Linked DNA regions of Homo sapiens: all the other regions are linked to region 1. Evidence: fine-mapped expression QTL. A gene starts in region 1. Each other region holds a variant in brackets. All regions are shown on one strand. Distances are from middle to middle.

Evidence for each region.
Region 2: its variant is fine-mapped to the expression of ZNF559 in whole blood (INTERVAL, PIP above 0.99).
Region 3: its variant is fine-mapped to the expression of ZNF559 in subcutaneous fat (TwinsUK, PIP 0.95). The same link has a PIP of 0.9 or more in lymphoblastoid cells.
Region 4: its variant is fine-mapped to the expression of ZNF559 in fibroblasts (GTEx, PIP 0.97).

The regions. Positions count from the first base shown.
Region 1 is chr19:9,323,066-9,325,750 of GRCh38, reverse strand. It overlaps ZNF559 (zinc finger protein 559), which reads right to left and starts at 1,572. Exons shown (of 7, transcript NM_032497.3): 1 at 1,523-1,572; 2 at 971-1,056. It overlaps ZNF559-ZNF177 (ZNF559-ZNF177 readthrough), which reads right to left and starts at 1,572. Exons shown (of 13, transcript NM_001384659.1): 1 at 1,523-1,572; 2 at 971-1,056. RefSeq lists a silencer at 1,169-1,308 and an enhancer at 1,479-1,728.
Region 2 is chr19:9,603,121-9,605,805 of GRCh38, reverse strand. No RefSeq gene overlaps it. Among named protein-coding and RNA genes, the nearest start is that of ZNF561, 17 kb to the left of the region's middle. The variant G/A (reference allele first, on the strand shown) is at 1,292.
Region 3 is chr19:9,577,561-9,580,245 of GRCh38, reverse strand. All of the region lies in intron 1 of ZNF121 (zinc finger protein 121), which reads left to right. Among named protein-coding and RNA genes, the nearest start is that of ZNF121, 5.6 kb to the left of the region's middle. The variant TG/G (reference allele first, on the strand shown) is at 1,265.
Region 4 is chr19:9,436,865-9,439,549 of GRCh38, reverse strand. The region is part of intron 1 of LOC105372269 (a long non-coding RNA gene); the gene reads right to left. Among named protein-coding and RNA genes, the nearest start is that of ZNF266, 2.6 kb to the right of the region's middle. The variant G/A (reference allele first, on the strand shown) is at 1,438.

The DNA of each region.
Region 1 (2,685 bases):
GCAAGGGTGCAATCTTGGCTCACTGCAACCTCTGCCTCCCAGGTTCAAGCGATTCTCCTGCCTCAGGCTCCTGAGTAGCTGGGATTACAGGTGCCCACGCCCGGCTAATTTTTTGTATTTTGAGTAAAGACGGGGTTTCACTATGTTGGCCAGGCTGGTCTCAAACTCCTGACCTCGTGATCCGCCAGCCTCAGCCTCCCAACATGCTGGGATTACAGGCGTGAGCCACCACACCTGGACTAAAGACATTTGTTTTACTCGAGCTACAGATGTTCTCTAGATCAGTATTTGTTTTTTTTTCTTCTTTTTGAAACAGGGTCTCACTCTGTTGCCTAAGCTGGAATGCAGTGACACAATAATGGCTCACAGCAGCCTCGACCTCCCATGCTCAAGTGATCCTCGCATCTCGGCCTCCAAAGTGGATGGGACCACAGACACCACCATGCCCAGCTAATTTTTTATTTTTAGTAGAGACAGAGGCTTGCCCTATTTTTTCCAGGTTGGCATCAAATTCCTGGGCTCAAGCGATCCTCCAGCCTCAGCCTCCCAAAACGCTGGGATTACAGGTGTGAGCCACCTTGCCCCGCCCTCAGTAAGACTTTCAAATGAGTAACTGGTAGAAAACCCACCTGTCAAAAGTTATCTTCGCATTCATTATCAATTCAATCCCTCCTGCTAGTAAATCAGCCCGCACCGTGTTCCTGGGGATGCCCTCGTTTTGAACCTCTGGGGGAATCTACAGGGCGCTAGAGTGAGATCTAGGTGATGGCCTGGAACCACAGTTGAGTAGTCCTGTGTTTTTCCTTGGTGGTAAATTTTACAGTTATGTGCATTCATCCACTCATGCATTCGATGGTATCAGATCCATGTGCTCTCGAACAACCACCTGAAAAGGTTTCTTTCCACCTCGACACAACTTAAACTTCAAGACCCGACACCCACAGCCAGAACAAGTGCATGAAGTGCTCACCGGGACACGACAGAATTGTCAGGTTGCTGAGGCCAGGAGGACACCAAGCGAAGGTCACCGTGAACAGGAAGGCAGAGATGCTGTTCCTTATAGAGAAAAGGCACAACGCTGGATGTGGAGACTTTTTTTTTTTTTTCCATTAGAGATGGTTGGGGGGGGGGGTCTCCCTATGTTGCCCTGCCTGGTCTTGAACTCCTGGCCTCAAGTAATCCTCCTACCCAATCCGCCCAAAGCGCTGGGAATGACAGGCGTGAGCCGCCGCGCCGGGCCCTATGAGGCTTCTGCAGAGGGGAGCAGGGAAAATGGAAAGGCCGTGCCCCCCGCCTCCTCCCGGGCCGAGGCCCCAGCGCAGCCGCCTCGACCCCTGAGGACAGACCTGACTGTGGCTCTCAGAGGAGGGGCCGCGACTTGGGAGAGCCCACAAGATGCTCGAAATGCCCGAAAGTGCACGGGACAGGCTCCATTTCACTGGGCACCTCCCCTTTCCACCCTTCTACTCTCGCGTGGCTGCACCGGGACACCACCGAACGCCGCCCAGAAACAAAAACTTACCTCAGACGCCAACGGGAACGCGCTGTTAAGATGGCGGCCGTTATGCGCATGCGCCCACGCAGACACGCCGCGCACGCGCAAAGGCTAGGACCACCTAGGGGGCGGGGCCTCGGGTTCCCGGGCCCATCAGCTGCTGCGGCTTTTTCCAACCCAGAGCTGAGAGGAAATGCTGTTTACCTCCCCGAAGAGCGCAAGTGTCACCGGTAGGGGGTCTTGACTGCAAGCTGTCCAGGTTACTGGCGTTTTGAACAAAGAATTAGACAAAACGCCCAGCAAAGCAAAGAAAGAATGAAGCAACAAAAGAACAAGAGCTGGGATTTGTTGAAAACGAAAGCATACTCCACAGTGTGGGAACTGGCCAAGCGGCAGCTCAAGGGCTCCGAAACAGAACCTTCATGAGTCCCAATACCTCCTAGAATTTTCCCATTGGCCACTTCATGCTCACCTCCTGTAAATGAAGCGGTAGCCCGCGTTCAGTCTGATTGGTTGCAGAAAGCAGCCAACCAGAGTCTGAAGTTACAAAGGTCACACTCCTGTGCAAACATCTGATTGGTTGCAAAAAGCAACCAATCAAAGGCTAGGGTGAAGTTACGACGTTACAAAGTTACACTTCTATGCAAATGAAGACTCAACCGGCCATCAGTCTGATTTGTTGCAGACAGCCAATTTCCTATCTGCCAGCAGAAAAGGTCAAAGGGAGTAGCCTCTGGTCCTTTTGTTATTTAGGCGAGGAAAGTGAGGGTTTTCCTTTCAATTTAGTTCTAGGAAGTCGGCCTGAAACAGCCTTAAGTTCCCTGCCTCCCGACTCTATTCAGCCTCACAAGGGCTTGATTTTTGGTCATCTCACACTCAGAGACTAGAATGCTCCTATTGGAATTTGTTCAAAAATTAGCACATAGAGGCTGGGCCTGATGGCTCACGCCAGTGATCCCAGCACTTTGGGAGGCTGAGGCAGGCAGACCACTTGAGCTCAGGAGTTCGAGACCAGCCTGGGCAATATGGCAAAACCCTATTCCTATAAAAAAGACAAAAAACACAAAAATTAGGACGTAGTTAAGAGCATAGATAAGATTCATGCGGACTTCCTAAAAGTGAAAACACCAAGATCTGGGGTCGGGGAATCTAAGGCCAATTCGTGATAATTTCCTAAAGTTAAATCAAAG
Region 2 (2,685 bases), 280 kb before region 1:
TTCCCAGCACTTTGGGAGGCTGGGTCAGGAGGATTGCTTGAGGCCAGGAGTTCAAGATCAGCCTGGGCAACATAGTGAGATTCCATCTCTACAAAAAAATAAGAGTTATCAAGCCGGATGTGGTGGCTCACGCCTGTAATCCCAGCACTTTTGGAGGATAGGCGGGTGGATCCCCTGAGGTCAGGAGTTTGAGACCATCCTGGCCAACATGGTGAAACTCCATCTCTACTAAAAATACAAAAAATTAGCTGGGCGTGGTAGCTGGCGCCTGTGATCCCAGCTACTCCAGAGGCTGAGACAGGAAAATCACTTGAACCCAGGAGGTGGACGTTGCAGTAAGCCAAGGTCGTGCCCCTGCACTTCAGCCTGGGCAACAGAGGAATACTCCATCTCAAACAAAACAAAACAAAACAAAACAAAACAAAACAAAACAAAGGCCTGGCACAGTGGCTCATGCCTGTAATTCCACTTTGGGAGGCCGAGGTGGGCAGATCACGAGGTCAAGAGGTTGAGACCATCCTGGCCAACATAGTGAAACTCTGTCTCTACTAAAAAATACAAAAATTAGCTAGGCCTGTTGGCGTGCACCTGTAATCCCAGCTACTCAGGAGGCTGAGGCTGGAGAATCACTTAAACGTGGAAGGCGGATGTTGCAGTGAGCCGATATCGTGCCACTGCACTCCAGCCTGGGTGACAGAGCGAGACTCCATCTCAAAAAAAAAAAAAAAAAAAAAAAGTACCCAGTCTCTGTTATTTCTTCATAGCAATATGAAAATGGACTAATACGTCAGAAGTTAGAATTTCAAGACCTACCAGGCATTTATTTCAGTGATTCTCAAAAGCCATCTTCAACAGAACCCCTTCCTTTCTCAGATTTCTTCCATTGGCTCCTGAACCTGGTTGGATGGACTGACAGAAGAGTGTTCTTGAAGCCCCCAGAGTGACTCTCCCCACCTGAAAGTAGGGACTCAGCCCTATCCAGAGTTGCAGAGGGCCAGAGAATTGACTGCTGTCTGGCGAGGCTGCCGTCTATCCCCCACTGCATTCTCTAGTCCGTCAGAGCAGAGGGTTTCATCTGTCCTCCACTGAGGCTGCAGTTTTACCCCTGAGAACAGGTGAATGTTCCCCTTTGGGGGAGGATGTGTCTGAAAGGGTCTTGAGTATTGCTGTGGGCAAACTCCACACATCATCCATAATGGTGAATGCACTAATACAAAGATACAAATCAGCCAGAACCAACCTTACATTCCTGGAGTAAATGCCACTGGGTTTACTACTTTCTTACCATGGC[G/A]TTGGAATTTGTTTGCTAATTTCTTTCTTTCCCTCCCTCTCTCTCTCTTTCTTTCATCTTTTTTTGTTTTTTGTTTTTTGTTTTTTTGTTTTTTTGAGACGGAGTTTCACTCTTGTTGCCCAGGCTGCAGTGCAATGGCGTGATCTCGGCTCACCACAACCTCGGCCTCCCAGGTTCAAGCGATTCTCCTGCTTCAGCCTCCTTAGTAGCTGGGATTACAGGCATGTGTCACTACGCCCAGCTAATTTTGTATTTTTAGTAGAGACGGGGTTTCTCCATGTTGGTCAGCCTGGTCTCGAACTTCCGACCTCAGGTGATCTGCCCACCTCGGCCTCTGAAGTGCTGGGATTACAGGCGTGAGCCACCGCACCCGGCTCTTTCTTTCTTTCTTTTTCTTCCTTCCTTCCTTCCTTCCTTTCTTTCTTTCTTTCTTTCTTTCTTTCTTTCTTTCTTTCTTTCTTTTTCTTTCTTTCCTTCCTTCCTTCCTTCTTTCTTTCCTCCTTTCCTTCCTTTCCTTCTTTCCTTTCCTTTCCCTTCCCTTCCCCTTCCTTCCTTCCTTTCTTTCTTTCTTTCTTCCTTTCCTTTCTTTCTCCTTCCTTCCTTCCTTCTTTCTTTCTTTTTCACCCTTCCTTCCCTCCCTCCCTCTCCTTTTCTTTCTTTCTTGCTTTCTTTTCTTTTCTTTCTTTCCTTCTTTCTTTCCCCTTCCTTTCTTCCTTCTCTTTCTTTCTTTCTTTCTTTCTTTCTTTCTTTCTTTCTTTCTTTCTTTCTCTCTCTCTCTCTTTCTTTCTTTCTTTCTCTCTCTCTCTCCCCCTCTCTCCCTCCCTCCCTCCCTCCCTCCCTTCGTTCCTTCCTTTCTTTTCTTCCCCCCTCCCCTCCCCCCCCTCCCTTCCCCTCTCATCTTGCTTTATCACCTAGGCTAGGTGCAGTGTTGCAGACACAGCTCACTGTAGCCCTGACCTCCTGGGCTCAAGCAATCTTCCCACCTCAGCCTCCCAAGTAGCTGGGAGTACAGGGGTGCTCTACCACACCCAGCTAATTTTTAAATTTTTTGTAGAGATAGTCGCTTGCTATGTTGCCCAGGCTGCTCTCAAACTCCTGGGCTCAAGCAATCCTGCCTCTATTATACTTAGTGCATTTTTTTTGTTTGTTTTTTGGTGTTTTTTTGCTTGTTTGTTTTGTTTGTTTGTTTGTTTTTAGATGGAGTCTTGCTCTGTCGCCAGGCTGGAGTACAGTGGCGCGATCTCGGCTCACTGCAACTTCTGCATCCTGGGTTCAAACAATTCTCCTGCCTCAGCCTCCCGAGTAGCTGGGACTACAGTCACGCGACACTACACCCAGCTAATTTTTGTATTTTTAGTAGAGATGGGGTTTCACCACGTTGGCCAGGATAGTCT
Region 3 (2,685 bases), 250 kb before region 1:
AACTGGGCTTACTGCAAACTCTGCCTCCCGAGTTCACGCCATTCTCCTGCCTCAGCCTCCTGAGTAGCTGGGACTACAGGTGCCCGCCAACACGCCCGGCTAATTTTTTGTATTTTTAGTATTGACGAGGTTTCACCGTGTTAGCCAGGATGGTCTCAATCTCCTGACGTCGTGATCCGCCCGTCTCAGCCTCCCAAAGTGCTGGGATAACAGGTGTGAGCCACCCGCGCCTGGCTGACAAGGGAATATCTTTACCCACAGACATGGTGGCCCCAGAATCTCCCACCCTCTATTTGAAAATTCAAAAAAAGTTTTTTGATTCATAATAGACGTACATGTTTTCTGAGTACATGTGATAATTTGATGCATTTATATTATCAAATCAGGGTAAGTAGAATATCTGTCACCTTAAATATTTATCCTTTCTTTATTGCAGGAAAATCAAGTTATTCTCTTAGCTGTTTTGAAATGTACAATAGATGAGTGTTAAATGTAGTCACCCTACTGATCTATTGAACACTAGTTCTTATTTCTTCTAACTGTGTATTTTACCCATGAATCAACCTCTCTTTTTTTTCTAGAGACGGAGTCTCACTGTTGCCCAGGCTGGAATGCAGTGGCATGATCTCGGCTCACTGTAACCTCCACCTCCTGGGTTCAAGTGATTCTCCTGCCTGGGACTACAGGCGCACGCCACAATTCCCAGCTAATTTTTGTATTTTCAGTAGAGATGGAGTTTCGCCATGTTGGCCAGGCTGGTCTCGAACTCCTGACCTCAAGTGATTCACCTGCCTTGGGCTCCTAAAGAGCTGGGATTACAGGCATGAGCCACTGTGACTGACAGGTTTTATGTGTGCATATGTGTGCAGACAGGTCTTCCTGTGTTGTCCAGGCTGGCTCGAACTTCTGGGCTCAAGTGATCCTCCCACCACAGCCTCAAGTTTTGGGATTACAGGCATGAGCCACTACACCTGAGTATTGTTCTCTATAGTGGCTGTACTAATTTACATTCCCATCAACTGCATACAAGGATTATCTTTTCACCACATCCTCATCAGTATTTGTTATTCCCTGTCTATAAAAGCCACCCTATGAGGTGAGATGACATCTCATTGTGGTAATGTGTGATTTGTATTTCTTTGATGTTTAGCCATGTTGAGCATTTTTTCCGTATACCTGTTGGCCATTTGTATGTCGTTTTTTGAGAAACAAGTATTCTGACCTTTGGCCAATTTTTTGATCGGATTTTTTTTTTTTTTTTTTT[TG/G]CTATCAAGTTGAGTTCCTTATATATTTTGATTACTAATCTTTGTCAGGTGGATAGTTTGTAAATATTTTTTTCCCATACTCTAGATTGTCTCTTCAGTTTGTTGATTGTTTTGCTGTGGAGAAGTTTTTAGTTTGATGTAATCTCATATGTTTATTTTTGCTCCTGTTGCCTGTGCTGTTGAGGTCTTACCCAAGAAATCTTTACCCAGACCAATGTCCTGGATTGTTTCCCCAGTTTCTTCCTCTAGTAGCTTTATAGTTTCAGGTGTTAGATGTCTTTAATCTGTTTTGATTTTGTTTATGCTGAGAGATGGCATCTAGTTCATTCTGCATATCGTTATTCAGTTTTCCCAGCAGCACTTATTGAAGACTGCTATTTTCCCATTGTATGCTTTTGGTGCCTTTGTTGAAAATGAACTGTCTATAAATGTGTAGATTTATATTTAGGTTCTCTGTTCTCTTCCATAGATCTATGTGTTTGTTTTTATGTCAGTACCATGCTGATTTGGCTATGGTAGCTTTGTAGAATATTTTGATATCAGGCAGTTTGATGCTTCCAGCTTTTTCTTTCCTTCTTTTTTTTTTTGAGACTAAGTCTCGCTCTGTCTCCCAGGCTGGAGTGCAGTGGTGCGACCTCGGCTCACTGCAACCTCTGTCTCCCAGGTTCAAGGAATTCTCCTGCCTCAGCCTCCCTAGTAGCTGGGACTACAGGCACGCACCACCATGTCTGGCTAATTTTTTGAGGTGGAGTCTCGTTCTGTCACTCAGGCTGGAATGCAGTGGTGTGATCTGGGCTCACTGCAAGTTCCGGCTCACTGCAAGTTCCACCTCTTGGGTTCACACCATTCTCCTGCCTCAGCCTTCTGAGTAGCTGGGACTACAGGCACCCACCACTGGGACTACAGGCACCACGCCAGGCTAATTTTTTTTTTTTTTTGTATTTTTTTTTTTAGTAGAGATGGGATTTCACCATGTTAGCCGGGATGGTCTTGATCTCCTGACCTCGTGGTCTGCCCACCTTGGCCTCCCAGAGTGCTGGGATTACAGGCGTGAGCCACCACGCCCGGCCCACAGCTGGCTAATTTTTGTATTTTTAGTAGAGACGGGGTTTCATCATGTTGGCCAGGCTGGTCTTGAACTCCTGACCTAATGATCCACCTGCCTCGGCCTCCCAAAGTGCTGGGATTACAGGTGTGAGCCACTGCACCTGGCCACTCCAGCTTCGTTTTTTTTGGTCAGTATTTCTTTGGCTGTTTGAGGTCTTTTGTGATTGCATATACATTTTAGGATTTTTTTTCTCTTTTTGTGACGAATTTCACTGGTATTTTGAGAAGGGTTGCCCTGAATTGTAAATTGCTTTGGGTAGTATTGTCATTTTAACAATATTCTAATCCATGAGCATGGAATATCTTCCCATTT
Region 4 (2,685 bases), 110 kb before region 1:
AAGACCTACAATAATTCCCAGAAGTATAGGCAGAAAAGTTTCATGATACTGGATTTAGTACTGTTTTCTTAGGTGCAGTATCAAAAACATTGCAAACAAAAAATTATCAACATTAAACTTGTACTTCAGAGGACACTCATCAATATTATATAGTTTAGTATTCTAAAATATTCCATCAAGAAAGAGAAGGAAAACCTATTGAGAGAAAATATTTGTAAATCATATATATGATAAGGACCTCTCTTCAGAATATATAAAGAACTCTTGCAACTCAATGGAATTTTTTTTTTTAAGATAGAGAGTTTCGCTCTTGTTGCCCAGGCTGGATTGCAATGGCACCATCTCAGCTCACCGCAAGCTCCGCCTCCTGGGTTCAAGCGATTCTCCTGCCTTGGCCTCCTGAATAGTTGAAATTACAGGCATGTGCCACCATGCCTGGCTACTTTTTTGTATTTTTAGTAGAGACAGGGTTTCTCCATGTTGGTCAGGGTGGTCTTGAACTCCCAACCTGAGGTGATCTGCCTGCCTTGGCCTCCCAAAGTGCTGGGATTACAGGCGTGAGCCACTGCACCCGGACCTTTTTTTTTTTTTTTTTCGAAACAGAGTCTCACTTTATCACCCAGGCTGGAGTGCGGTGGCATAATCTTGGCTGACTGCAACCTCTTCCTCCCGGGTTCAAGCGATTCTCCTGCCTCAGCCTCCCGAGTAGCTGGGATTACAGGTGTGTGCTATCACGCCTGGCTGATTTTTTATCTTTTACGATGTTGGCCAGGCTGGTCTTGAACTCCTGGCCTCAAGTGATCTGTCTGTCTCAGCCTCCCAAATTGCTGGGATTACAAGCCACCGTGCCCAGCCAGAAAACAAATTTTAAAAGGGGCAAAGGAATTGAACAGAAATTTCTCCAAAGAAGCATACAAATGGCTAACAAAGCACATTAAATGATGCTGAACATCACTAGTGTTAGGGAAATACAAGTCAAAATCATGAGGTATCACCTCACACCACTAACACAGTTAACATGAAAAACACTAAAGTGTTAGCAGGGACGTAGAGAAGTTGGAGCCCTCATACATTTCTGGTGGGAATGTAAAACAGTACAGCCCCTTTCAAAAACAGTGTGGCAGTTCTTCAAATTCTTAGATAGTTACTGTATGGCTCAGCAATTCCATTCCCAGATATATACTCTAGAGAAATAAAAACCAGCTGAGCGTGGTGGCTTATGCCTTTGTGGAGGCCGAGGCGGGCAGGTTGCTTGAGCTTAGGAGTTTGAGACCAGCCTGGGCAAAACCCTGTCTCTACAAAAAAATACAAAAATTAGCTGGGTGTGGTGGCTTATGCCTGTGGTCCTAGTTGCTCAGGAGGCTGAGGTGGGAGGATCGCTTGAGCCTAGGAGGTAGAGGCTGCAGTGAGCTGTGATTTCTCAAAAAATAAAAGCCA[G/A]TATGCACAAAAAGATATATGTGAATTTTCATAGCAGCATTAATCACAACACCCCCAAAGTGGAAACAAACCATATGTCCATCAACTGAAGACAAATCATATATGGTATATACATAGAATGGAATATCATTCAGCAATAAAATAGAATGATCTAGGCTATAATACAGATGAACCTTGAAAAACGGGCTAAGTGAAAAAAGTTATTCACAAAAGATTGTATGATTTTTAGGCCGGGCATGGTGGCTCACGCCTATAATCCCAGCACTTTTGGAGGCCGAGGCAGGACTACTTAAGCCCAGGAGTTCGAGATCAGCCTTGCAACATAGTGAGACCCTGTCTATACAAAAATAAAAATAAATTGTATGAGTATATCCATATGAAATGTCTACAAAAGAAAAATCTGTAGTGATAAAGTAGGTTTGTGGTTCCCTGGAGCTTAAAGAGGAGGTAAATGGGTTTTCCCATTCAAAGATTTCTTTTAGTGTGATTAAAATGTTCCAAAATTATGTTTGAACAACACTGCGAATGTACTAAAAAATATTGAATTATATAGCTTTAAGTGGGTGAACTGTGTTGGTTATATGTGAATTGTATCTCAATACAGCTGGTCTAAAAACCAAAAGGGAAAAATCACAATAATAGCCACATCATTGGGAGCGTAAAAATTTAATGTCTATTAAGCATTTAGGGTAGTAAGATTTAAAAAACAGCTACCGCCAGGTGCGGTGGCTCACACCAGCACTTTCAGAGGCTGAGGTGGGCAGATCACCTGAGGTTAGGAGTTTGAGACCACCCTGGCCAACATGGCGAAACCCCATCTCTACTAAAAAAAAAAAAAAAAAAAAATACAAAAATTAGCTGAGCGTGGTGGCGCGTGCCTATAATCCCAGCTACTCAGGAGACTGAGAAAGGAGAATCCCTAGAACTCAGGAGGTGGAGGTTGCAGTGAGCCGAGATCGTACCACTGTATTCCAGCCTGGGTGACAGAGCAAGACTGTCTCAAAAACAAACAAACAAAAAAGCTACCATTATTATTATTATTACCACGGAATATTATTAGTTGATACAAAACCACTGGAATGAAAAGATTATGATCTTGATATTGGCATAAGTAAATGTATTACTGGCATAGAGTCTAGAATCAGATACAGGTATACATAGGAATTTATAGTTTAATAAACATGGAATTTGAAATCAGTAAATCAAGGACAGTTTATCAATATGTGGTACTACAATAATTGGCCGTGT